Linked DNA regions of Homo sapiens. The protein of the gene in region 5 purifies or fractionates together with the protein of the main gene of each other region. This does not show direct contact. Each region holds a gene or a part of one and is shown on either strand. Other genes may lie near its edges.

Region 1 (3,500 bases), on a different chromosome or scaffold from region 5:
GGGAGAAAGCCCCCTAAAATCTAGCCATAAACTGGCCCCAAGACTGGCCATAAACAAAATCTCTGCAGCACTGCGACATGTCCATAATGGTCCTAACGCCCAAGCTGGAAGGTTGTGGGTTTACAGGAATGAGGGCAAGGAACACCTGGCCCGCCCAGGGCAGAAAACTGCTTAAAGGCATTCTTAAGCCACAAACAAAAGCATGAGTGATCTGTGTCTTAAGGACGTGTTCCTGCTGCAATTAATTCGGCCCATCCCTTCATTTCCCATAAGGGATACTTTTAGTTAATTTAGTATCTATAGAAACAATGCTAATGACTGGTTTGCTGTTAATAAATATGTGGGTAAATCTCTGTTCGGGGCTCTCAGCTCTGAAGGCTGTGAGACCCCTGATTTCCCACTTCACACCCCTATATTTGTGTGTGTGTGTCTTTAATTCCTCTAGCGCCTCTGGGTTAGGGTCTCCCCAACAGAGCTGGTCTCAGCAACTTTGAGTTTACCTTTCCTTTCTTTTATCTTCTAAAACAAAAGCCTAGATAACTGTTTTAGATCTTTATTCTTTTCTAATATAAGTAATTAAAGCTATAAATTTTCCCTTAAGGCTTTAATATATGAATTATTTGGAAGGGCTTATTTAATACTGCAAACTCTTCCCTCCCAAGATATGACACTGATTTCAAAATTACTTCCAGTGTGATCAGAGAACATATTTGTATTCCAACCCTTAGAAATTTATTTAGAGTTGTATTAATATTATAGCTCACCTTATTGTCTATCTTGGTGAATGTCATGCACACTTGAAAATAATGTGTATTTTGCCTTTTCTGGGTGCAGTGTTCTAGGTATCAAACAAGTCAAGGTCTTCATTGATCTAATTGTTTCTCCAATTGTTCAGAGCTTGTTCAAACTTCCAACTATGATTATAGATTTGTCTATTTCTCTCTTGAATTCAATTTCTGCTTTATATTTTGAACTCTATTATTAGGCACATACACAGTGATGACTGTTGTTTTCCTTCTAACAAATTGACCCTTTATCATTACAAAATGTCCCTGTTTAAATCTGAAAATACTATGTCTTTAAATCTACTTTATCTAATATTAATAGACACTGTCTCCTTAAGGTATTGTCTGCATAGCATATCTTTTTATATCCATTTATTTTCAACCAAGTATATCTCTTGTAGACAGGATTATCGTCGAGTCTTGCTTTTTAATTCATCCTAACAATCTCTGCCTTTTAGCTGGAATATTTACTTGATTTACATTTAATTACTGATATAAATGAATTCAGTTGTATCAATAACTGAATAATTGAATACCTACATTTTAGGTATTTGTTTTCTATTTGTTCTTTCTGGTTTTTGTTTTTTTCTTTTGAGTTTTCTTTTAGGTTAATGTTTTCTAGAATTCCATTTTAATATATCTTTGGCTTTTACAATAGTGTATTTTGTATTTTACTTACTTATTTCTAGAGATAGTTTCACTATGTTGCCCAGGCTGGTCTTGAACTACTGACCTCAAGTGACTCTCCCACCTCAGCCTCCCGAACAGCTGTGACTACAAGCACAGACCACTGCAACTGGCTTATTTAATGGTTGTTCTAGAATTTACAATATACATCCTTAACCTTTTAATTTTACTACTGCACATAAAATGTAAGAATCGTTAAGAATCATATAGATCTATTTACCCCACACCTCCTGGCCTTTGTGATTAAGTTGTCAAGTGTACTAAGCCTGCTTTAAACAGTATTCTGTTTTCTTAGCTTCTATATTTAACTACTTGGCATCCATTAATCACAGAGCCAACTGTATTAACTATATATTTTATTATTAATATTATTAGTAGTAACTAAATATTTTCTTATTTTCTGTATTCTTGAGGCTCTGACATTTGTGGAGAGACTGCCCCTCCGTCAGGTGGGGAGGAGTCAGCAAAGGGCTTGCTTGGTAGCATGCCTTTCTTATGCAGAGCAGCCAATCTGGAGCCCATAAACTCATACACCAAGCCAAAATTCTCCCTGCTGTAAGTCAAGGGCCAGGTATTAGACAAGCAGGGCAGTCTTTATGCCCCAAGGCCCGCCAAAAGCATTCAAACTAGCCAACTGCAAGCCGTTTACGCTGCTCTGCCTTGCTTTTCCTGCAGAAACTCCAACAAAAGCTCTGACCTACTTTTTCCCCTAGTTCCTTGTGACTCCTGACTAAAACTGGTGCTTCCCCATGTGGCCCTGCATGGCACATCAAGCCCCCTTCTCTCAGGCAATATAAGTAGTAAAAGTTTTCTTTCAAGGGCATTGGACTGTGTCATCACTCAGTCACCTCTATAGATTACAATCCCACAGGCACAAATGAGACAAATAGTTAAATATATTTTTAAAGAAACTAAGAAGGGCAAAAATAGTCTTTTACATTTACCTATATATTTTCCATGTCAGGTCATCACATCTCTTCAGCTTAAAGAACTTCCTTCACCTCTCTCTTTTTTTTTTTTGAGACAAGGTCTGGTTCTATCACCCAGGTTGGAGTGCAGCGGTGCAATCTTGGCTCACTGCAGCCTCCGCCTCCTGGGCTCAAACCATCCCCCTACCTCAGCCGCCCGAGAAGCTGGGACTACAGGGTGCACCACCACGCCCAGCTAATTTTTGTATTTTTTGTAGAGATGAGGTTTTGCCATGTTGCCCCAGCTGGTCTTGAATTTGTGAGTTCACGCAACGTGCCCACCGTGTTCCATTCCATGCACCGTATTTATGAGAATGCTGACCAAGTGTAGAACACTTAGCACAAAGTGACCTGGATGGGGTGGGGCGTGGTGGCTCACGCCTGTAATCCCAGCACTTTGGGAGGCCAAGGCGGGTGGATCACAAGGTCAGGAGATCAAGACCATTCTGGCCAACATGGTGAAACCCTGTCTCTACCAAAAATACAAAAATTAGCTGGGCATGGTGGTGTGTGCCTGTAATCCCAGCTACTCTGGAGGCTGAGACAGGAGAATTGCTTGAACCAGGGAGTCGGAGGTTGCAGTGAGCCAAGATCGTGCCACTGCACTCCAGCCTGGCGACAGAGTGAGACTCCATCCCCCAAAAAAAGAGAATATAGATTTTTTGTTTTAGCAGGCAGTCAGAATCTGAACTCAAAACTATAAGCTCTGTCTCCCCAGATGGTAAGCAACTGAAATCTGTTCAGATTTTTCCCCTATTAGGCTACCTGGAGTCCACCCTGTGTTTCAGTAGTTCAGGGACAAACCAGAGATTTGGGAAGAATTTATATAGACTTAGGGGATCTCCCTTTGTGCCTGCCGCCTCCTTTCTCTAACCCTCACCACTATCACCACCAGTTTCCATCTACTATGGTTGTCTACAACTCTCGCCTCCAGTTCTAAAGCCAATAAGACCATAAATTTTCTGCTAGAACCTTAGCTGCCTGGCTTGAAGCTGTCTTCAGCATGTACTTAGGTCAAAAAAAAAGGTGTAAAACAGAAAACATACCCTTTCTTATAAGT
Region 2 (3,500 bases), on a different chromosome or scaffold from region 5:
TCTGAACTGGCAAGCAAATTTTCACCCAGTTAATTGGGTCGAGGAAAAATAAAATAAAATAATTCCCATGATTACACAAATGTTCTTTTATTTATATTAGTCACTGTAACAATCCTATTTATGGATTAATTTCTTTGTACCCCAAACAACTGTTTTCTTATGAAATTTTTAAAGATTTTTGTAACAAAATATAACCTTAAATTCCTAATTTTGAACTGAAAACATCTACTCCATAGCTAGAGTAACTATAAAATTGGGCCATGGCCAGGCACGGTGGCTCACGCCTGTAATCCCAGCACTTTGGGAGACCAAGGCGGGCGGATCACATGAGGTCGGGAGTTCGAGGTCAGCCTGGCCAACGTGGTGAAATTCCATCTCCATTAAAAATACAAAAATCAGCTGGGCATGGTGGCACACGCCTGAGGTCCCAGCTACTCAGGAGGCTGAGGCAGGAGAACTGCTTGAACCTGGGGGGCGGAGGTTGTAGTGAGCCAAGATTGCCCCACTAGACTCCAGTCTGGGCGACAGAGCCAGACCCTGTCTCAAAAAAAAAAAAAAGAAAAAGAAAGGAAAAAAAAATTGGGCCACGTTTGAGAGACAAAGCTAGAGAGTGTAGTCGTACTCCCCAAAACTTTTATATATTTACTCTGTCTTAATAAACTCAAAGGTCCTCAATGTCTTTATGGGAGATAACTGAAGGATTAAAATTAATTCAAATGTAATTAATGTTTTCACAAGACTCCTTATAATTTCCTTACAAATCCTATATATCCTACAAAATTAGGGATGGTAGTAAATTTTTTTTTTTTTTTTTGAGATAGAGTTTCGCACTTGTTGCCCAGGCTGGCGTGCAGTGGCGCGATCTCGGCTCACTGCAACCTCCACCTCCCAGTTTCTCCTGCCTCAGCCTCCCAAGTAGCTGGAGTTACAGGTGCCCACCACCATGCCCAGCTAATTTTTTTTTTTTTTTGTATTTTTAGTAGAGACAGGGTTTCACCATGTTGGCCAGACTTGGTCTCGAACTCCCAACCTCAGGTGATCCACCTGCCTCAACCTCCCAAAGTGCTGGGATTACAGGTATGAGCCACCGCACTCTAAGATAAATTTCTAAAGCACAATTGCTTGGCCCACATTCAGTCTGAGGAATGGCAATCCAACATTCTCAATCCAAGAGAGTCTGACCAGCCATTGGGCACAAGTTCAAATCCTCCAGGAGTACTGGATGTTTTAGATTAGGACATCAGAAAGGACAAAGAAATGATCTGTTCTCAGAAGGAATCAAGATACCCCTGTAGGACACCCCAACATCCCCACCCACAAAAGCTGGTGATTATACGAAGCCCTGAGACAGTCCAGATTTCATTTCTATTGCCCAGGCCAGTAGACTCCTGATCCAGTCTATCATTACCACTCTCCAGGATCAGAAGTTAATCATGTTGTTAAACTTTCCATGATAATGTTCTGGGTTTTTTGTTGTTGTTGTTGTTTTTTGAGGTGGAGTCTCGCTCTGTCACCCAAGGCGGGAGAGGGTCTCAAACTCCTGACCCTCAGGTGATCTGCCCACCTCAGCTTCCCCCAAAGTGCTGTGATTACAGGCGTGAGCCACCATGCCAGGCCCATGATAATGTTTAAAAGCAATGAATAGGCTGGGCACGGTGGCTCACGCCTGTAATCCCAGCACTTTGAGAGGCCCAGGTGGGCAGACCACCTGAGGTCAGGAGTTCGAGACCAGCCTGACCAATATGGTGAAACCCGTCTCTACTAAAAAGATACAAAAATTACCCAGGCGTGGTGGTGAGCACCTGTAATCCCAGCTACTTGGGAGGCTGAGACAGGAGAATTGCTTGAACCTGGGAGGCAGAGGCTGCAGTGAGCCGAGATCGCGCCACTGCACTCCAGCCTGGGCATCAGAGCGAGACTCCACCTCAAAAAAAAAAAAAAAAAAAAAGCAATGAATAATACATGTTTGCCCACTAAAGAACAAGTTCCACGAGGGCAGGGACCCTGTCTACTTGCTCAATACAGAAGTCCCAAGGCCCAGCAACAGACTCGGGATGAGACTGGTTGCCAAGAAATCTTTGCTTAACTCACTGCTACCAAATGACAACTTGTCTCTGTGTTACCAGTACCCAGCACGCATGGTGCCCGGGACTGCATGCACACATCTCAAGCAGTTTCTGAAGACACAGAGGAGAAACACTGCCTTAGTCATTCATGTTTGGTTACAAGATCTACTGAAATACCTGCCTCCAAACAGCAGCAGACTGTCTCTTCAGAGACTTCTGCGGTGCCAAGCCCTGGGGTTTCAAGAAGAAAGCAAAAAATGATTTCCTTTCCTTAACCAAAACACTACATTTTACTTGGGGCGCAGCAGTCTTTACTGCTGCACTCCCATCTCCTCCACCCTTCTTTTCTGGGCAGTTCATTAGCATACGACTCAATGAGGCTAACTTCTTAATCCAGTACATATTAAAAGATCTTGTCATCTTGTCAATAAGGCACTTCCCTCTCTACCTATTTCATATTGCAACCACCAAAGTCCCTACTCCTCTGCACTGTTTTTCAAAAGCACCTGCCACCATTGAACTTGTTCGTCTGTCTCCCATAGCAGAAACAAGGACAAAGACTTCTGTTTTATTCTGCGGGAGGCCCCAGTACCTAGAACTGTGCCCAGTACATAGAAGATGCTCATGAATAAGTAAACAGATGCAAATCACTGAAAGCTACTTTTCGGTAACTGAGTAAACAAGTACTATTTTAATTATTATACTTAAAACCTTTGCACATAAAAGTGCACAGTCATTCTTTCTACCACAAATTAAACAGAAATTATCTCATCTTGTTTTTGAACAGGCTTTTCCAGATAATGCACAGCGCATTTTTAAAAGTCCCAAGGACATGAAATGAACATACATTTCGTTTTTAACAGTTAACAGGGGATACTTGTAAGAAACTTAAGGTTACACAGGAAGTGGTCAAAATCAAAAAGTAAAGATCACAAAGTGATCTTTCGTTGTTTTCATACTATAAAAACACAATGCCTCTGTTACTAAATGCAAAATGTAAAGCTCTGGCAAACAAAGTAAAGCAACCCTGTTCTCTCTTAAGAGGGCAGGGTGGAAAACCAATGACTGCCAGATGAAAACTAATTTATATCACCACAAACTATTTCTTAAAAATTTCATTAGCAGCCAAATACAAAATTATTTACTATCTACCTACTGATAAGGGTTTTCCATTACTATATGCTCAAAGACAAACCTTACAACTATAGTTTCGGGAGGCATAAATTTGCTTACCTCAGGAGGTCCCACAAAAATTCAGCTGAGGCCAGGTAACAGCAGTTTCCTGCAGAGATCAGCTACTTCCTATCACCATAGTGGTCGAAGAATCAAACGAAGTAATATCAGATTTCTACTCTGGAAGCCTAAAACACTTTTCCCTTTAAGCAAAAAAGCAAGCATTCCTTAGCTAGCAATCTCAGGCCAAACTCCCAACAA
Region 3 (3,500 bases), on a different chromosome or scaffold from region 5:
ATAATAATTTAATTAGGTTGCTGATTCAGCATTGATATAAAAATCAATTATATGTCCATCTACTAAATCAGGTAGAAAATGAAATTTTAATAGATATTATTTAGAATAGCATAAAAATTAAGATAACTGGGAATATATCCAGCAAAAGACAGGATATTCCAGAGAAAACTATAAAACTTCATTGAAAGACATTGAAGACCTAAATAAATGAAGAGATATACCCCGTTCATATGCTAGAGGAGTCAATATTGTAGAAATGTCATTTCTCTCCAAATTGATCTATGGGTACAATGCAGTGAGATCAATATTATAACATTTTTATGTGGAATTTAATAAAATAAACATTCTAAAATATTTATAGAACTCAAATGAGCTAAGAATAGCCAAGAGACTGTGTAAAAAGAGAAAAACATAGAACTTATTATAAAACTATAATAAGAGAAGCAGAGTATTAGTATAAATATGAGAAAATGGAACAACAATAGAAGAAAGAGACTAGAAACATTTACATGTATATAGACATGATGTATGGCAGAGGTTTATTGAAGATCAATGGGGGAAAATGGAGATTTCAATAAATGGCGCTTGGACAACTGGCTTTCTATTTGGAAAGAACATAAAATTGGAGCTTTACCTCCATCATTCACAAAACTCACTTATAAGTGGGGGTATTTCCTTTTTAAAGAAAAATGGAACTATGTTGCAAATCTTTTCACCTATTTTTCCCATGTCAATAGATAGAAAATAATACATATATAAAATAGATATGACTTTTAATAAATGTACCAAAATTTATTCAGTCTGATTAGTTCATTGCAAATATTTTACTATTATACAGTGAGCATAGTTGTATAAGAGATCCTAATTTTCACACATTCTATACTCCTACAGCTTCTTTCATACACTGAATGTGCTGCTTTTAATAAGTGAACATTTTGAGCTATTACACGGCAGCTACACTGCCTTTATTGTATTGCATTTGCTTTTATTTTTATAAAGAACTGTGCAAAAACGAAACAAATGAATTTGCTGCTACTAGTGATAAGCGGCACAGTATCGTATACTTTTAAATAGGCACAAAGATAAAAAGCACTTGGCATTGTGAGTGTGGCTAATCTTGAGCGCACTCACATACTCACTGAACTCAATCCATTCAGTGGTACTCAGTCATCAGAGAAAAGAACAATGGTAAAGAACATGAATAAAATACTCGGAATACATATTATTAAAGACTTGGTATAAAGGAGATGTATAATTAGACATTTTATCTTTCTCTTTTAAATTCCTCTGGAACAGAATCTATTTTTTTTTTTTTAGCATTCACATATCCACTTTCACCAGTGTTTTTCAGATTTCCATTATGTAAAAAAGGACTGCCTACATTATATATTCATCAGGTTATTCCAGTAGGATAAATTCCTAGAAATACAGTTAATAGGGCAGAAGGTATGCATATATTTTAGACACTTTATGTATACTATGCCAAATTGCTGAGACAGGATGTTCCAATCTATATTCCCATCAGAAACACACACCACCACTAAGCTTTTAATCTATAACATGCTTTTTAGTCATGACAATTCAATCTTACTATTTTAATTTGCATTTCTTTGCTGAAATCACTCTGTCTCCTTACCTACAAAATGCAGATAAAGATATCTACCTATAAGGATTACATAATATTATGTAAAATTCTTAGGACAGGTGCCTCACATGTAGTAAATAATCAGCAAATATAAGCTATTTTTTCATATGCTTATTTCTTTTATGAATTTTCTATTCTTACCCCTTGCTCACTTTTTATATTAGTCCTTTGCCCATTTCTCATTGCTTTATCCTAAGAGCTTGTTAAAAGGAAAGTGAATTCCTGGTCTATCACATGCTAATATTTTTCCCAATATGTCATTTAAAAGTTTGTTTAGAATGTCTTTTTAAATAAAAAGACAAATGCATCAATATGATTTTTGCCTTAAATGTCATGCTTAGAGAGGCCTTGTCCTCCTTAATTTTATACTGATAATCACTTAGATTTTACCCTAATACTTTTTTTTAACTTCAAACTTCTATTTTAAGTTCCGGGATACATACACAGGAGGCGCAGCCTTGTTACATAGGTATAAACGTGTGCCATTTACCCTACTACTTTAATGATTTTATTATTTTACATTTAGTTCTTTAATCAAACTAGAATTTTTTTTATAGGGTGAAGGGAGCTATGTTTTCCAAATGTTTTGCAATGGACATGTATTATTTTCATAGTTAGAAAACATCTCAATACTCTGAACATTAATATTAGAATCAAACTTATCACTCTATTAATATTGGAATCAAACTTTTCACGACATTCCAACTCCATCTGCTAATTTTCAGACTGGCCTAGACAACTGTGAACAGACTAATTTGCATACAAGCTGAATGTAATTAGTCCACAGTTAACAATTACTTTCCTATTGGCATTCTCATTGATATAAATTACCAAGGTTTTCTCTATACTAGGGTCAGTAAACTTTTTCTGTAAGTGACCAGATAATAAACATTTTAGGCTTTGGGCCATACAATCTGTCACAACTACTCAGCTCTCCCCTGTAGCACAAAGGCAGCCACAGACAATATATTTGTGAATGAATATGGCTGTGCTCCAATAAAACTTTATTTATGGATACTGAAACTTGAACTTTACGTATTTTTCTGTTCACAAAAATTATTCTTTTGATTTTCTTTGCATCATTTAAAATTAGAAGATTCTTGGCTTCTGGGCTATATAAAAACAGGTGGCAGACCAGTTTGCCAATGCCTGCTTTATTTCAATACTTTTGGGTGTGTTGTCTATAGTAGCACCACCCAACAGAACCTTCTGCACTGACGGACAGGCTGTATACCTGTGCTTTCCAGTATGATGGCTACTAGCTACATATGGCTGTTGAGCACTTGAAATGTGGTGAGTGTGACTTAGGAACTAAGTTTTGAATTTTATTTAATTCTAATTAATTTAAATTTAACTAGCCACATGTGGCTAATAGCTACCGTATGGGATAGTGCATACCTATAGATTGGGCCTAAATAAATAATATGTAGATATAGATACAGATGTATGTGTGTGGGTATTTTTCTCCTGAGGATCTAATTTGACATATTTAGTACAGTCACAAAAATCGTGGATATTTACTCAACTAAAAGTTCCACAATTTTTTTCCAGTGACAAATGGGAATAGCTAATTTTCATTTCTAAAGCCCTCTTGCCCTAAGTTCTCTGAATGCCAATTAAGCAATGAGCAGAACATGTAATCAGAGCCCCAGAAGCATTTATGCCACTCCTGCAGGTGGCAGCTTCTCCTCATTGCTGTTATTCCTTAAAGGCACACCACATCCTCTTTCTCCTGACACTGCCCTCTCTATCTCCACAGGGTAAAAATAAAAATAACTGAATTAGTGGGAGAGGACTATAGCTATTGTCACTTTTCTTAGGTACCAAATGCTTTTCTAATAAAAAAGCACACTTA
Region 4 (3,500 bases), on a different chromosome or scaffold from region 5:
CTCCTGCCTCAGGGCCTGCCACCATGCCTGGCTAATTTTTTAATTTTTAACAGAGATGGCATTTCACCATGTTGGCTAGGCTGGTCTTGAACTCCTGACCATCCACCTCGGCCTCCTAAAGTGTTGGGATTACAGGCGTAAGCCACCAAACCAAGCTGAAATATTAATTAATCCTAAACTAGTTTAAGATGTTCCCAATTTCACCTCCACTCCATTAAAAAAAAAAAAAAAAAAAGGTGGGTTCTTACTGTCACCCAGGCTAGAATGCAGTGGCATGATCATAACCTTGAACTCCTGAGTTCAAGCCACTCTTCTGCCTCAGCCTCCCCAGTAGCTAGGACTCCTGGCCTCAAGTGATCCTCCCACCTCAGCCTCCCAAGTTGCTGGGAATATAGCATGCACAGAGGGTGTTATGTTAGCCATGGATCACAAACATTTGCTGTTAATCATCCATCTTTCTTGTGCTTCAGTGTTCATCATACTCATTATTTAGCTCAAAATGGTAGACCTGAATTTATACTTAGTATTGAGTTACAATTTAAGTTTCCTACAGAGATGCTTTTGGATATTTATAATTAAAAGCAATTCAATTTATCATAAATGAGATTGAAAACTGGTGAGAGCTTTAAGGCACTTAAATTGCTTTACAAAGATTGAGGGCAAATTTTTGTCCAGGGATGTTTTCCCCACCCATCTGCTGCTTAGGTTCACACAAAACATCTAATTGAAACACATTTTCAACGTTCCATACTTAGAGACAAAAAGCTAAAAATCTGATCCTATGTATTCAACCTCTTATGATCTGAACAATGGTTAACAATCTTCCTGAGAAATAGGTTCTAAGAGTAATGGAAAACACTTTAAAAAAAACAAAAAAACAAAAAACAAAACCAACAACCCAAATATGTGATATCAATTTGAGTGGTTGATAAAAGTCTTTACCGAGTAAAAACAGCATGGTCCTTCTGATCTAACACAATGATAATATCGCCTGGCTCCAGTCCTGGTTCTTGGTCTCCTTCACCATGGAATGTTATCTTCTGGCCATCTTTCATGCCTAAAAACAAAACATTAATTTTGTACTTTTATTAAATATCCAACTAAGGTCAGAATCATAAAATCTATACATAGATGTTTGTTTATGCATAAAAATCACAGAAATGACTAAGAAAGCCCACTTAAGTAGTTCAGTCCAATTTGCTCCTGAAGAAAGGTATCATAGTGGAGAACACAAACTCCAGAGGCAAAGAGACTAGCCTTCAAATCTCAGAGCTGCTATTCACTGGCTGGATTACCCTGGGGAAGTAAGCTGCATATCCTTTCCAAGTTTCAACTTTCCCACAGACACCTACACCTCATTAGCAATATTTAGAGTATTAACTCAACAGGTATATGCTGGTACTAAACCATGACTGGCTAACACTGGTTATAACCAAAAAATGTTAATTAAGTATTTCAGTTTCATTACTTATAACACATCAAATTACTTCTATTAAAAGTCTAACAGCAATGTAAATCAAGACCCTTCTATTGTAGTATTTATATATAAAACTAAAAAAATTTTAAATCTATAATCTTCTCTTGAGATAGGATCTTGCTCTGTTGCCTAGGCTGGAGTGCAGTGGCACAAACATGGCTCACTGCAGCCTCCATCTCCTGGGCTCAAGTGATCCTCCCACCTCAGCCTCCCGAGTAGCCAGGACCACAGACCAGCTAATTTTTGAATTTTTTTTTTTTTAATAGAGATGGGGGTTCTCATGTCGCTCAGGCTGGTCTTGAACTACTGGGCTCAAGGGATCCTGCCTCGGCATCCTATAGTGTTCGGATTACAGACCTGAGCCCCTGTGCCTGAAAATCCGTATTTTAAAGAACTATTCAGTATAGTCCCCTTAAAAAAAGGGTAATTATACTTTGAGAGGCCGAGTCAGGAGGATACCCTGAGGATAGCACCCTGGAGCACAGGAGTTCCAGACCTTGTCTCATTTAAATTAAACAAGCAAACAAAACAATCAGTGCTAGACACTCCCTTAGCCCATGTGGTCCGTAAAATACAAGGGGAGGAGTATTTTCTAACAGGGCAAAAAAACACGCCTTTTTTTTTTTTTTTAAACTGAGACTTCGTGCCCCTCACCTCTGACCCACATATTTTAGTTCAGTAAGGGTTTGGGCAACGTCTCTTAGAACATAACTCATGTAAGAAAACCTGTGTTTGTAGAGTATTACACCAAAGCAGTTATCTCCTGATTATTTCCCAAGATCACTCTGGTTACCTAACAGAGCAATCATGTTTCACCTTTACGTATGGAAAATATTAATCCTGTATAAACAGAGCCAACAGTACAATGAATTCCTACATATCCATCCAATTTGGCTTCAGCAGTTACTAACTCATGACTAATATTTCATGTATTACACCCCTACGCATGCCCCCCACATATACTTTCAAGCAAACTCCAACTATATCCATTAACCCACAAATACTTCAGTACGTACCTCTTAAATAAGGACTTAAAGCGCTATCAGTATCATACACTGACAAAATTAAACAATCTGTCTTTAATCGTGTATTGAGGCAAAATAACTTGTTATGCTAGGGAAGCAATTAAACTCAGCTAGGTTTTCCTGAATACAGAGTAAGAGTAGGCACAGCACAAATGCCTTCACTTGCTATATAGTTAGGGCATTAATTTCAAGTTCTCACTTACAGTCCATTGTTGATAGGTTCTTGGAAATTGCTTTAAATGAAATGACACATAACAAGACCAATTTTTTTCCCCTCAGCTGTGTTACAGTGACATGACATTATTTGAGGACCTGCATGACATTATTTGAGGTCATTCTGCTAGAAGTCCCAGTTTCCAAGAACCTATCAACAACGTTAAGACTTACTCTGTATGCTATTGGTATCAAGAACACCTCAAAGTATAAACCTTAGGCATGGGCCCACTAAGGGGTAAACACAGATTTATTAAGTTCAACAACTGGCCAAGGAAACTTATTTTTACCTTTCAATGTACTACATTCTTGGGTGGAACCCTGGGGGTCAGAGAGGCCAGTATCATGAGTCACATGATAGAATCCTATTGCAGCCACTTATGTTAATGTAGATTTGTATATTAATATGGAAATATGTTCAAATATTAACAGTTCCAGATTGGTATCATACCACAGTACAGTATAATAGTAGACCCATTTATAAACAGCAAAATCTGAAAAGAGATTACCATAATGTTGACTTAAGTTTCCTTCTGGGGTTATATACATTTCTTAAAATTTCTGCAGTGTATTGCTGTAATACATTTTAAAATGTTTTTGCAAGTTGACAAGAGTAAAATTTAAAAATTGACAAATCAATCAAATCCCGAGAATACAAAAAAAAGGTTATATAGTTATTTCTAAATCTGGAGCCCAATGGGTTAGGGAAGTGTCAAGTCTAAAAAAATGAAAGGTAGTCTATCAAATCAATTAACGGAGCATTTAAATATAATAGATGGGCAAGT
Region 5 (2,954 bases):
TGGGTGACATGCCTCTTCCAAGTTGGACAGCTGCCCGCCATGACTCCAACAAATGTGGAGATGACAAGTTGGCCATCTAGCTCAAGCCAAGTGGACGCAGAAGCAAGCAACCGGGAAACTGACAGGACTCACACTAACTGGGCTTCTGGCAAGGACCCCGCAGTCTGCCTGGGGTTTGCACAGGGCAGTGATCCCAGCAGGGCAGTGAGGAGTGTCACGTATACCACGTGGGCACACCTCAAACAACATTCTAGAAAGAACGCCCAGGCTACAGTGCAGTGGCATGATCACGGCTCACTGCAGCTCCCACCTCCTGTGCTCAAGAGATCCTCCCACCTCAGCCTCCTGAGTAGCTGGGACCACAGGCGCACGCCACGATGCCCAGCTAATTTTTAAATTTTTTGTCTTGCTGTGTCACCCAGGCTGGTCTTGAACTTCTAGCCTGAAGTGATCCTCCTGCCTCAGCCTCTCAAATTGCTGGGATTACAGGCATGAGACTACAGGCCTAGAAGGATCTCCATGAACTCCAGACAGGGTCTCTGCCTCCCTCATCCTAGTGAGGTCCTCCCAACACGGAATGAGCAGGAGCCGGATAGGTGTGGCCTAAGTCCTCTCATCCCTGTGTGGTGGGAGCAGCTGTGGTCTTTTGGGGGCTCTCCCCTCCTCTCTCCCCATGTCTGGACACACTCCCCGGCGGGGCAGGAGCTGGCCCCACCCCGCACTCTGTGCACATCTTCCTCCCACAGCGCTCGCACAGGGCCGGGTGCCCAGAGGCCCTCGGTGAGAGCCACCCTCTGTGTGATGTCCCTTCTGGTGCACCCTGGCCCCACACTCACCGTCGCCCTCCTTCTCGCCCTCACTCTCCTGGTCGCCTTCATAGCCAGAGCAGCAGTCCAGGCTCCAGTCGAGGAAGCTGCCCAGCAGCGTCTCCTCCTGGCTGGACAGCTCCGCAGTGGGGGTGGTAACGAAGCTGCCTCTGTCTTCCTGGAGGCTGTTCTCCCGCTTCCTGCAAGGTGGAGAGAGCCCAGGAGACCCAGTCATGGACGGCGGCGCTGGGAGGCCAGGCCCTCCACACCTGCCTCTAACACCCGCGTGCCCCAGCCTGTCACCACGTGCTCCCAAAGGTTCTGCTACGAAGAAGATGCCGGTGAAGCTAGAACAGGTATAAGCCCTTCAGGCAGGGCCAACCTGGAGGACAGCTCAGGCAAACTCAGGCCCCAGGTCTGGGTGTGAAGCCCAGCCCACCCGGCTCAGCTGTGGGGCGTGGGCCAACCATCTGGTCCCCTGGAAACCTCTAGGATGATGCCACCTTCCAGTGTTTTTTTTTTTTTTTTTTTTTTTTTGAGGTGTTCTTGCTCTGTCGCCCAGGCTAGAGTGCAGTGGTGTGATCTTGGCTCACTGCAACCTCCACCTCCCGGGTTCAAGTGAGTCTCCTGCCTCAGGCTCCTGAGTAGCTGGGACTACAGGTGCCCGCCATCACACCCAGCTAATTTTTATATTTTTAGTAGAAACGGGGTTTCACCATGATGGGCAGGTTGGTCTCGAACTCCTAACTTCAGGTGATCCGCCCACCTCGGCCTCCCAAAGTGCTGGGATTACAGGCATGAGCAACCGCACCCGGCCCCTCTGGTGTTGATTAATAAGGTGCAGGCAGTGCTTAGCCCGGCGCCAGGCAGATTGCATGGAATGGCCTGGCCTTGGGCGGTGCTGACACCCACACCCAACTGGGGTCAAGTCTTGCTCAGGATGGGGCTAGAGGCCAGTGTGTGGGCGTGAGCCTGGGAAAAGCCGCCACACCAGCTGAGCCTTTCCACTTCCTGACCCCAGGGCCTGGTGGAGGGCGGGGGGTGGAGAGAGCTATCCCAGTGTCACCCGTGGGGGTCTGTCTCAGAAGACTGATGGGGCTGTGGGGGGCCTCTGAGAAGCGGGTTTAACACAGCGAGGCTGAGCACAGGGCCAGGGCCAGGCCCCCTCCTGGAGTAGCCGTGCGTATCTGCATGGACTTTCCTCGTGATGACCCTGGCCCCAGGGAGTCGGTGCGTGTGTGGAGTGACACAGGAGGGTCAGGTCTCCTGCCTTCCACACAATGGAAAGTGCTGTCACGCTTCTTGGGGAGGAAGCAGCAGCAGGGGCTTTGGCTGCTTCCCCAGGGCTCCCCAGGAGTTGAGGTCTCCTGCCAGGAGCCCACTCCCGACACAACGCTTCTGGAGGCAGCCCTGCCTGGTCCTATATTGACAGGAAAGACCCAGCCACCCAGTGCCTGCCCTTGGGAAGGTTACTGGTGCACATGGTGCTGAGGGGTCACGGCGCAGGGCCAGCAGCACAGGGAGGGCCCTGTTCATCGGGGCCTTGTGGAATCAGTAGGAGTTCTCCAGGCGGGTGAGGTAGAAAGAGGAAGTTAACTCCAGGAGGAACAGCCAAGGTGCTGAGATAGGAGAGGCGGGTAAACAGGTCCACACGGGTGGCGAGGGAAGTGCTGGGGATGTGACTCAGGTCACAGCTCGAGTGCCGGGAGTGACAGCAGCATCATGGAGCAGAGAAGTCCAGGACGCGCATGACAGGCACGGGCAGGGCTAGAGCCAGGCTAGGCTCCCGCGTGCTCGAAACCATCTTCCTCCACAGGGAGCCCAGTCAGAGCGAGAGGCAATAGCCTCTGAGGAAGGAGACCTGGGCTGGAGACAGTGGAGGTTACGCAGGGGCCCGAGGCATGACTGCAGGGCTCCGTCCCAGGGTCACTGTCCTGGGATCTGCTGCTCCCCTGACAAGCCTTGGGGGCCTCTCTGTGTGAGGAAGCGCTGAGGGAACTGGGCCGGCACGAGGATGCCAGCATTGTATGGCGCAGCCAGAACGCAGGGTAACTAACCGTTTGGTTCTCCGCCCCGAGGGAGAGCTGAGGAAGGCGTGGATCTCCCCTGTGCTGAGGAAAGTCGGGGGGTCGGGGCTGTCTTGTGTCA
Region 6 (3,500 bases), on a different chromosome or scaffold from region 5:
ACTAGAATACAGGAAACCACCACAACCACAATTATAGGGTAGACAGGCCTCAAAATTGTAGCATTCTATAAATAGTCTAGTAAACTAAATCTTGACAAACAAAACTCTACCTGTCACCAACACCCAAGTCCTACAACAGTTCAAGGCAGCCATCTATTGTTCTGAAGCAATAACCATACTGTAGAGGATAAGATGGTTACCCATTAAAGGGGATACTGGTAATAAAGTATATTTTTAAAATTGGAAACAAGAATGACTAAAACCAGACCTGATAATGTAAAGGCTTGAATTATCAAAAAGGGAAGAAAACTATGAATTAAATTAGTACTTTTTTTTTTTTTTGAGACGGAATCTCGCTCTGTCACCCAGGCTGGAGTGCAGTGGCGCGATCTCAGCTCACTGCAAGCTCCGCCTCCCGGCTTCACACCATTCTCCTGCCTCAGCCTCCGGAGTAGCTGGAACTACAGGCGCCCGCCACCAGGCCCAGCTAATTTTTTGTATTTTTAGTAGAGACGGGGTTTCACTGTGTTAGCCAAGATGGTCTCGATCTCCTGACCTCGTGATCCGCCCGCCTCGGCCTCCCAAAGTGCTGGGATTACAGGCGTGAGCCACTGCGCCTGGCAAATTAGTACCATTTTCTCTGCAGCAATAACTGAGCGACATAACAGTAAAGATACACTAAGAATACACTTACTGGTGCTCATAATTAAACATTGTGCTTAATCATGAGGGCTGATGGGTAGGTGAAAGGAGCTAGGATTTACTGTGAAGTAATAACTGCATGCTCACTGTAAATGTTACTAAAAAGATAAGGTAGAGACCATTTCCAGTTGATCCTAGATAGTGGGCCATTTAAGTGTACAACAAAAGCTTATTGGAACTCAACTTCTGGGGTTGACATGACATTTTTGTTATCTTGATTATGGTGGTGGTTTCACAAGTGTAAACATGTCAAGATTATACAATTAAAATATGTGTAGTTTATTGTATATAAATTATGCTCCAAAAGGGCTGTTAGGAAATTTACTGTAACTAATGTAGACATCTTGTTCAACAAGAATCAACAGTTCCCTTGAACACACTCTCATCTTTAGTGAAAGTTTAGAGACTAGCACGTGAAAATGAAACATTCAGCCCGATAGACTCAATTTCTTTGAAACCTGCAAAACAGAAAGTTTGACTGACAAATGGCTCCTCCTTCTGGAAATCTTCATTACTACACAAACAAGCTGAGGACCAACATCTAAAAACAGCTCCAGGCCAGGTGCAGTGGCTCACGCCTGTAATCCCAGCACTTTGGGAAGCCAAGGCAGGTGGATCATTTTGAGGACAGGAGTTTGAGACCAGCCTGGCCAACATAGTGAAACCCCATCTCTATTAAAAATACAAAAATTAACTGGGCGTGGTGGCACACGCCTGTAATCCCAGCTACTTGGGAGACTGAGGCACGAGAATCGCTTGAACCTGGGAGGTGGAGGTTGCAGTAAGCCAAGGTTGCACCACTGCACTGCAGCCTGGCTGACAGAGTGAGACTGTCTCAAAAAAATAAAAATAAAAATAGCCAGGTGCGGTGGCTCACGCCCATAATCCCAGCACTTTGGGAGGCCAAGGCGGGCAGATCATCTAAGGTCAGGAGTTTGAGACCAGCCTGGCCAACATGGTGAAACCCCGTCTCTACTAATAATACAAAAATTATCTGGGCATGATGGCACATGCCTGTAACCCCAGTTACTCGGGAGGCTGAGGCAGGAGAATCACTTGAACCTAGGTGGTGGAGGTTGCAGTGAGCCGAGATCACATCATTGCACTCCAGCCTGGGCAACAAGAGTGAAACTCAGTCTCCAATAAAAATAAAAAATAAATAAATAAATAAAAACAGCTCCAGATCTACAACTGGCTTGTTCAATTTGGTTTTAAAGTCAGTAAAATCCATCCCTTCCAAGTGCTCAATGTATTTCAACAAGTGTATGCAGTAAGCACCACCACAATCAAGTCACAGAGCAATTCTTGGCTGGGTGTGGTGGCTCACGCTTATAATCCCAGCACTTTGGGAGGCCGAGGCGGGCAGATCACTTGAGCTCAGGAGTTTGAGATCAGCCTGCACAACACAGCAAAACTCCGTCCCTACAAATAATACAAAAATTAGCCAAGCGTGGTGGTGTGCGCCTGTAGTCCCAGCTACTCGGGAGGGTGAGGCAGGAGGATAGCCTGGGCCTGGGAGGTGGAGGGTGCAGTGAGCTGAGATCGTGCCAGTGACCTCCAGTGACAGAGTGAGACTCTGTCTCAAAAAAACAATTTCCTTGCTTTACTTATTTATAAATATGAAATGTTTCATAACTTACATGTCAGCCTTGCACAGGGCCCATGCTAATCTTCTCTGTATGGTTCCAATTTTAGTACCTGTGCTGCCAAAGCAAACACAAGTCCTAGAACATTCCTATCATTCCCAAAAGTTCCCTTGTGCCCCTCTGAAGTGAAGTACCTTCTTCTCTACCTCCTCATTTTTATTCAATAGTATTACCTTTTCCAGAAAGACAAAGAAGTGGAATCACATAACATGCAGCCTTTTGTATCTGGCTTCTTTCACAACTAGCTTTTTAAAGAAGTATCTTTGAATGGACAGTCAGGTCAGGTAGGTGCTGACTCCAAAATGAGTTCCAAAAGACCAGTTCTCTAAGTCCACCGTAGAGGACACAGGGACAGCACTTACGGGAGTGGGATGGTGATAACCACATCATTCAGTTCTAAATTATCTTCTTGTAGCTCATATTCTATGTTGACATCACAGCCATTTCCACTCTCCGAGGGCCAGCAATTAACTGAGGAGAAAGCAAAGCAGTCATACTAGAATATTAGAAAAAGATGGCTGGGTGCAGTGGCTCATGCCTGTAACCCCAGCGCTTTAGAGGACCAAGGTGGTAGGATCGAGGTGGGAGGATTGGTTGAGGCCATGAGTTCAAGACCAGCCTAGGCAACAAAGTGAGACTCCACCTATACCAAAAAAAAAAAAAAAAAAAGCCAGGCGTGGTGGCACTTCCCTGTTCTCCTAGCTACTCAGGAGGCTGAGGTGGGAGATCAGCTGAACCCAGGAGTTCAAGGTTGTAATGAGCCATGATCACACCACTGCACTCCAGCCTGGGTGACAGAGGGAGTTTGTGTCTTTTAAAAAAAGTTAGCTGGATGTGGTGGCATGTGCCTATAGTCCTAGTCCCAGCTACTAAAGAGGCTGAGGCAGGAGGATGGCTTGAGTCCAGGAGTTTGATGCTGCAGTGAGCTATGATTGCCCCACTGCACTCCAGCCTGGGCAACAGAAGAAGACCTTGTCTCTAAAACAATAACAACAACAAAACTACAATGGTTTCAAAATGAAAGCTATTAAAAATGAAAACTAATGATAAAAATATACAAAATGCAGCACCAGGTCCATTTCAAAAGAAAGTCATTTTGTCAGAAAGAACTTTGCTATGGTAATAAAAATAAAAGTGTACCAGCAAGGGCTA
Region 7 (3,500 bases), on a different chromosome or scaffold from region 5:
TCATCACACTTCATATACGGGCTTTTACATTTAAAACTTTTTTTAAAAAAAATAAATGTAGACTTTATAGAAAAGTTACAAAAACAGTACAAAAGATTCTTCATTCAGATTCCTCAAAAGTGAAAACATGTAAATTTTAAGCGACATCAACTTGAGATTTTGACTATATTGCAACTCAAGTTGCTTAAACAAGCAATCAATTTAATACCTAGGGAGTATTAATAATCTTAGGACAAGACCAACTTCTCATATCAACAATTCCAAAATCTCCAAAACTGAAAGATTTTTAACTCCTTCAGCAGCAAAACCTAACTGAATAAATCTATAGTCATTATTTACCCATTATAAGGTAAACATTTATAGGTTTCACTGCACAAATAGTACTGTTTGATTACACAGTGCTATCCCAGACCTATGAGGGGTGAATGGAATATACAGTAAATGTGGCATATTCCTAAGGATTTCAGTGAAGGGAATGTAAATTTTCATTGTCACTGTATATTATTTAGTATGTGCCAGGTACTACTTTAGTTGGTATTAAAATTTCATTTAATCCTCTCAATAACCTGGTAAGTCAGATTTTGCCCAAGGTCACCTAATGTATAATCAAATAGTAGAGACAACATGAAAATTTACATTTATCAGAGTCAAAGCTATAACCAACTTTTGAAAAGTTAATAGAAAAAAGTATTGAAAACTAGTCTCTTAGAATACTGGGGGCATGGGAGCTGAACAGAATTCTTTGAAAAAATTTCATTTCCCCTTCTTCCCTCTTTCCAGCAAATACCATTGCAATCATCTAAAACCTTGCTCATTTTCATATGAACAGCTGATAAGACACAAATATCTCAAACAAAGTAACTCTTAAATGTCTATTTTTTCCTCTTAAAGGTGAAGTATAAAACACCAGAATCCTGATTCTGTCTACATTATGTTAATTATCTGGACCAAGAAAAGATTAGAACTATACATTCAATAAGTACATCTTCTGTATTTATGTAAATCAGTGCTTTTCAAATGGGGGTGATTCTGCCTCCTGCAGTGGACATCTGGCAATGTCTTAACAAGAAATTAAAAATCCAAGAGCTCAACCTCTCTAATAAAGCTGCCCACAAAAAAATTTGGTAATATTCAACAAAAGTTAAGGTATAACTAAAATAGGCACTCATACTTTCTTGATGAAAGTACAAAGTGGTAATGTTTTATGGAGACAATGTAGAGTTTTTCTCAAAAGTTTAAATACATTGTACTCTCTAATCCAGTAATTCCGCTTTCTAGGAATTGATCCTACAAAAAAAAGTCAGGTAAGCACACAAAACAATTTGTTCAAGGCTGTTTAATACCGTGTTATGTATAATAATTAAAAACAAGACATAAAATAAATGTTCATGAATATCGGAATAATTAAATGAAATGAGATATAGTCAAAGGTGGAATACCCTATTTAAAAAGAATGAGGCAGATTTGCATTAACAAGAAAAGAGGTTCACAATGTATTGCTAAATGGAAAATCTAGCTGCAGGAAAAAAGGAGGTGCATTTATTCATAAAAAATTAATGTTTAACTTGAGCAGAGTCATGTCACTTTATATAGTTTTAAGTATTTTATATTATGTTTTACTTTATTAGATGAAAAAAGGAGAAAACATGATTAGAAGGAAATGTTACGAAATTTTATTAGTGGTCAACTCTAGATAGTGGAATTATAGGTGATATTTTTCCTTTAAACTTTTTAATGATACAGATGTATTATTTTTACAATAGCTACTATAAACTGATTCCTTCCCACATGCCAGTTACTGCCTATGTGAATTAATACACTAAAAGGCCACAACTCTACAAGGTAGCTATCATGAGCTCCATTTTGCAGACGGTAAAAGACTAAGAAATGGATTCTAAAGCCTATTAGTACATACTATGTTGCTAATCTCCTCCTGGGAAACACTAAAAATGTAAGAAAACTGATCACAAATCTCTATAAATTTATGAGCAAAAGACTTATGCAAGAAGAATCTGATTTGCCATTTCAGAGACCCGGGGAGTTTCAAAACAACCAAAAATATATTAAACCTGGAAAATATACTGAGTGTAATATTCTCGGTAAAAACTTCCCGCATACATTCATGTACCTACAGACACAAAAATGTTATACTTGAGGCCATCTGCTTTTCATTACTGAGAACTAATCTCTGATTACAATCATTCTGAATAGTTTCTTTCATAAAACAGGAACACATTTTGTATTTGAGAAAGCACTAACCAGTTACCATAAACTTCTAACCAGTTACCATAAACTTCAAATTATGTCAATTTCTAAATATGCCAGTTTCAAAACGCACAAAAGAATCATCTCACATTTGATAAATGCAAGACATTACTTTACTTTTTTTTTGAGACAGGGTCTCATTCTGTCACCCAGACTGGAGTGCAGTGGTGCAATCTTGGCTCACTGCAACCTCCGCCTCCTGTGCTCAAGGGATGCTCCCACTTCAGCCTCCTGAGTAGCTGGGATCACAGGTGGGTGCCACTGCACCTGGCTAATTTTTGTATTTTTAGTAGAGACGAGGTTTCACCATGTTGCCCAGGCTGGTCTCAAACTCCTGGCCTCAAGGGATCCACCTGCTTCAGCATTACTTTACTTTTCGAAGACAACCAGGAAAAACGAAAAACCATTTTTACAAATGTTTATGTCTTATATAAAATAAATGGAAAACGTCATCTTCTAATTATGATAACAGCTTTGAAAAGATAGAAGCTTCACTAGAATAATGATAATTCTGATGGCTTTGTCTTTTCAATTTTTGGAAGAGTACAACTGGAAAGGCTCCGTAGTTTACCCGGGTCAACTCCCCACATCATACAACTGGGGCCCAGAGAAAGGAAGTTGATTTGTTCAAGGCCCCACAGTTACTAAGAGGCTGAAAAGGGAGGGACTCCCTCAAGTTTTTAAAAATTCTAAATCCAAAATCTTGACTTCTGAAAGGTATTATCTGATAATTTAGTTGGCTACTTAAAGAACTTTGGGATCCTGTTCTCTTCTGTACTCTTGGGGCCTTTTCAACCCAACATTTTCAGACAGCAGCAAACTAATCTCTGTTATATTATCTGTACTCAAGAGTTCAAAGTCCCCTTCTTCTACATTGACAGCTTTTAATTGAAATCTTATTTGGAAACCCAGTGGAGAAAGAAAATAAAAGCAGAGCTGCCTTGATTAAAACAGTACAGGCGTCCTGTTTTTACTCGTTTTGTCCTGGAAGCCCCTGAAATACTTTCTTGGTATCTTAGTTCTCAAAGAAACAGTTTATTTCTAATGTATGAGAGTGTTCCAGGGCGCTGCTACTCAAAATATGTTTCTCAAACAATGAGCATCATTGAGGAGCTTGTTAGAAATGCCCAATATCAAACTCCAACCCAGGCCTACTGAAAAATCACAACAAGCATACTTAACAAGATGCCTAGGTGACTGGTATGCACATTAATGTTTGAGAAGCTTCTCAAATG

Evidence for each region.
Region 1: the proteins of CCNF (region 5) and EIF2S1 purify together in Homo sapiens (affinity purification with mass spectrometry, with the first as the bait; 2 studies listed by BioGRID). This does not show direct contact.
Region 2: the proteins of CCNF (region 5) and NAP1L4 purify together in Homo sapiens (affinity purification with mass spectrometry, with the first as the bait; 2 studies listed by BioGRID). This does not show direct contact.
Region 3: the proteins of CCNF (region 5) and AGK purify together in Homo sapiens (affinity purification with mass spectrometry, with the first as the bait; 2 studies listed by BioGRID). This does not show direct contact.
Region 4: the proteins of CCNF (region 5) and DNAJA1 purify together in Homo sapiens (affinity purification with mass spectrometry, with the first as the bait; 2 studies listed by BioGRID). This does not show direct contact.
Region 6: the proteins of CCNF (region 5) and ARCN1 purify together in Homo sapiens (affinity purification with mass spectrometry, with the first as the bait; 2 studies listed by BioGRID). This does not show direct contact.
Region 7: the proteins of CCNF (region 5) and ZNHIT6 purify together in Homo sapiens (affinity purification with mass spectrometry, with the first as the bait; 2 studies listed by BioGRID). This does not show direct contact.

What each region holds. Positions count from the first base shown.
Region 1 is NC_000014.9:67,366,828-67,370,327, reverse strand, and holds part of EIF2S1 (eukaryotic translation initiation factor 2 subunit 1), read right to left. Parts: intron 1-3,500. UniProt on the Homo sapiens protein: Member of the eIF2 complex that functions in the early steps of protein synthesis by forming a ternary complex with GTP and initiator tRNA. This complex binds to a 40S ribosomal subunit, followed by mRNA binding to form a 43S pre-initiation complex (43S PIC).
Region 2 is NC_000011.10:2,985,830-2,989,329, forward strand, and holds part of NAP1L4 (nucleosome assembly protein 1-like 4), read right to left. Parts: intron 3,443-3,500; exon of another isoform or gene 3,300-3,442; intron 2,298-3,299; exon of another isoform or gene 2,248-2,297; intron 1-2,247. UniProt on the Homo sapiens protein: Acts as a histone chaperone in nucleosome assembly.
Region 3 is NC_000007.14:141,641,910-141,645,409, reverse strand, and holds part of AGK (acylglycerol kinase, mitochondrial isoform 1 precursor), read right to left. Parts: intron 1-3,500. UniProt on the Homo sapiens protein: Lipid kinase that can phosphorylate both monoacylglycerol and diacylglycerol to form lysophosphatidic acid (LPA) and phosphatidic acid (PA), respectively. Does not phosphorylate sphingosine. Phosphorylates ceramide.
Region 4 is NC_000009.12:33,031,773-33,035,272, reverse strand, and holds part of DNAJA1 (dnaJ homolog subfamily A member 1), read right to left. Parts: intron 1,058-3,500; coding exon 943-1,057; intron 1-942.
Region 5 is NC_000016.10:2,453,447-2,456,400, reverse strand, and holds part of CCNF (cyclin-F), read right to left. Parts: coding exon 2,864-2,954; intron 1,007-2,863; coding exon 837-1,006; intron 336-836; exon of another isoform or gene 1-335. UniProt on the Homo sapiens protein: Substrate recognition component of a SCF (SKP1-CUL1-F-box protein) E3 ubiquitin-protein ligase complex which mediates the ubiquitination and subsequent proteasomal degradation of target proteins.
Region 6 is NC_000011.10:118,592,909-118,596,408, reverse strand, and holds part of ARCN1 (coatomer subunit delta), read right to left. Parts: intron 2,820-3,500; coding exon 2,711-2,819; intron 2,406-2,710; coding exon of another isoform or gene 2,343-2,405; intron 1-2,342. UniProt on the Homo sapiens protein: Component of the coatomer, a cytosolic protein complex that binds to dilysine motifs and reversibly associates with Golgi non-clathrin-coated vesicles, which further mediate biosynthetic protein transport from the ER, via the Golgi up to the trans Golgi network.
Region 7 is NC_000001.11:85,698,434-85,701,933, forward strand, and holds part of ZNHIT6 (box C/D snoRNA protein 1), read right to left. Parts: intron 1-3,500. UniProt on the Homo sapiens protein: Required for box C/D snoRNAs accumulation involved in snoRNA processing, snoRNA transport to the nucleolus and ribosome biogenesis.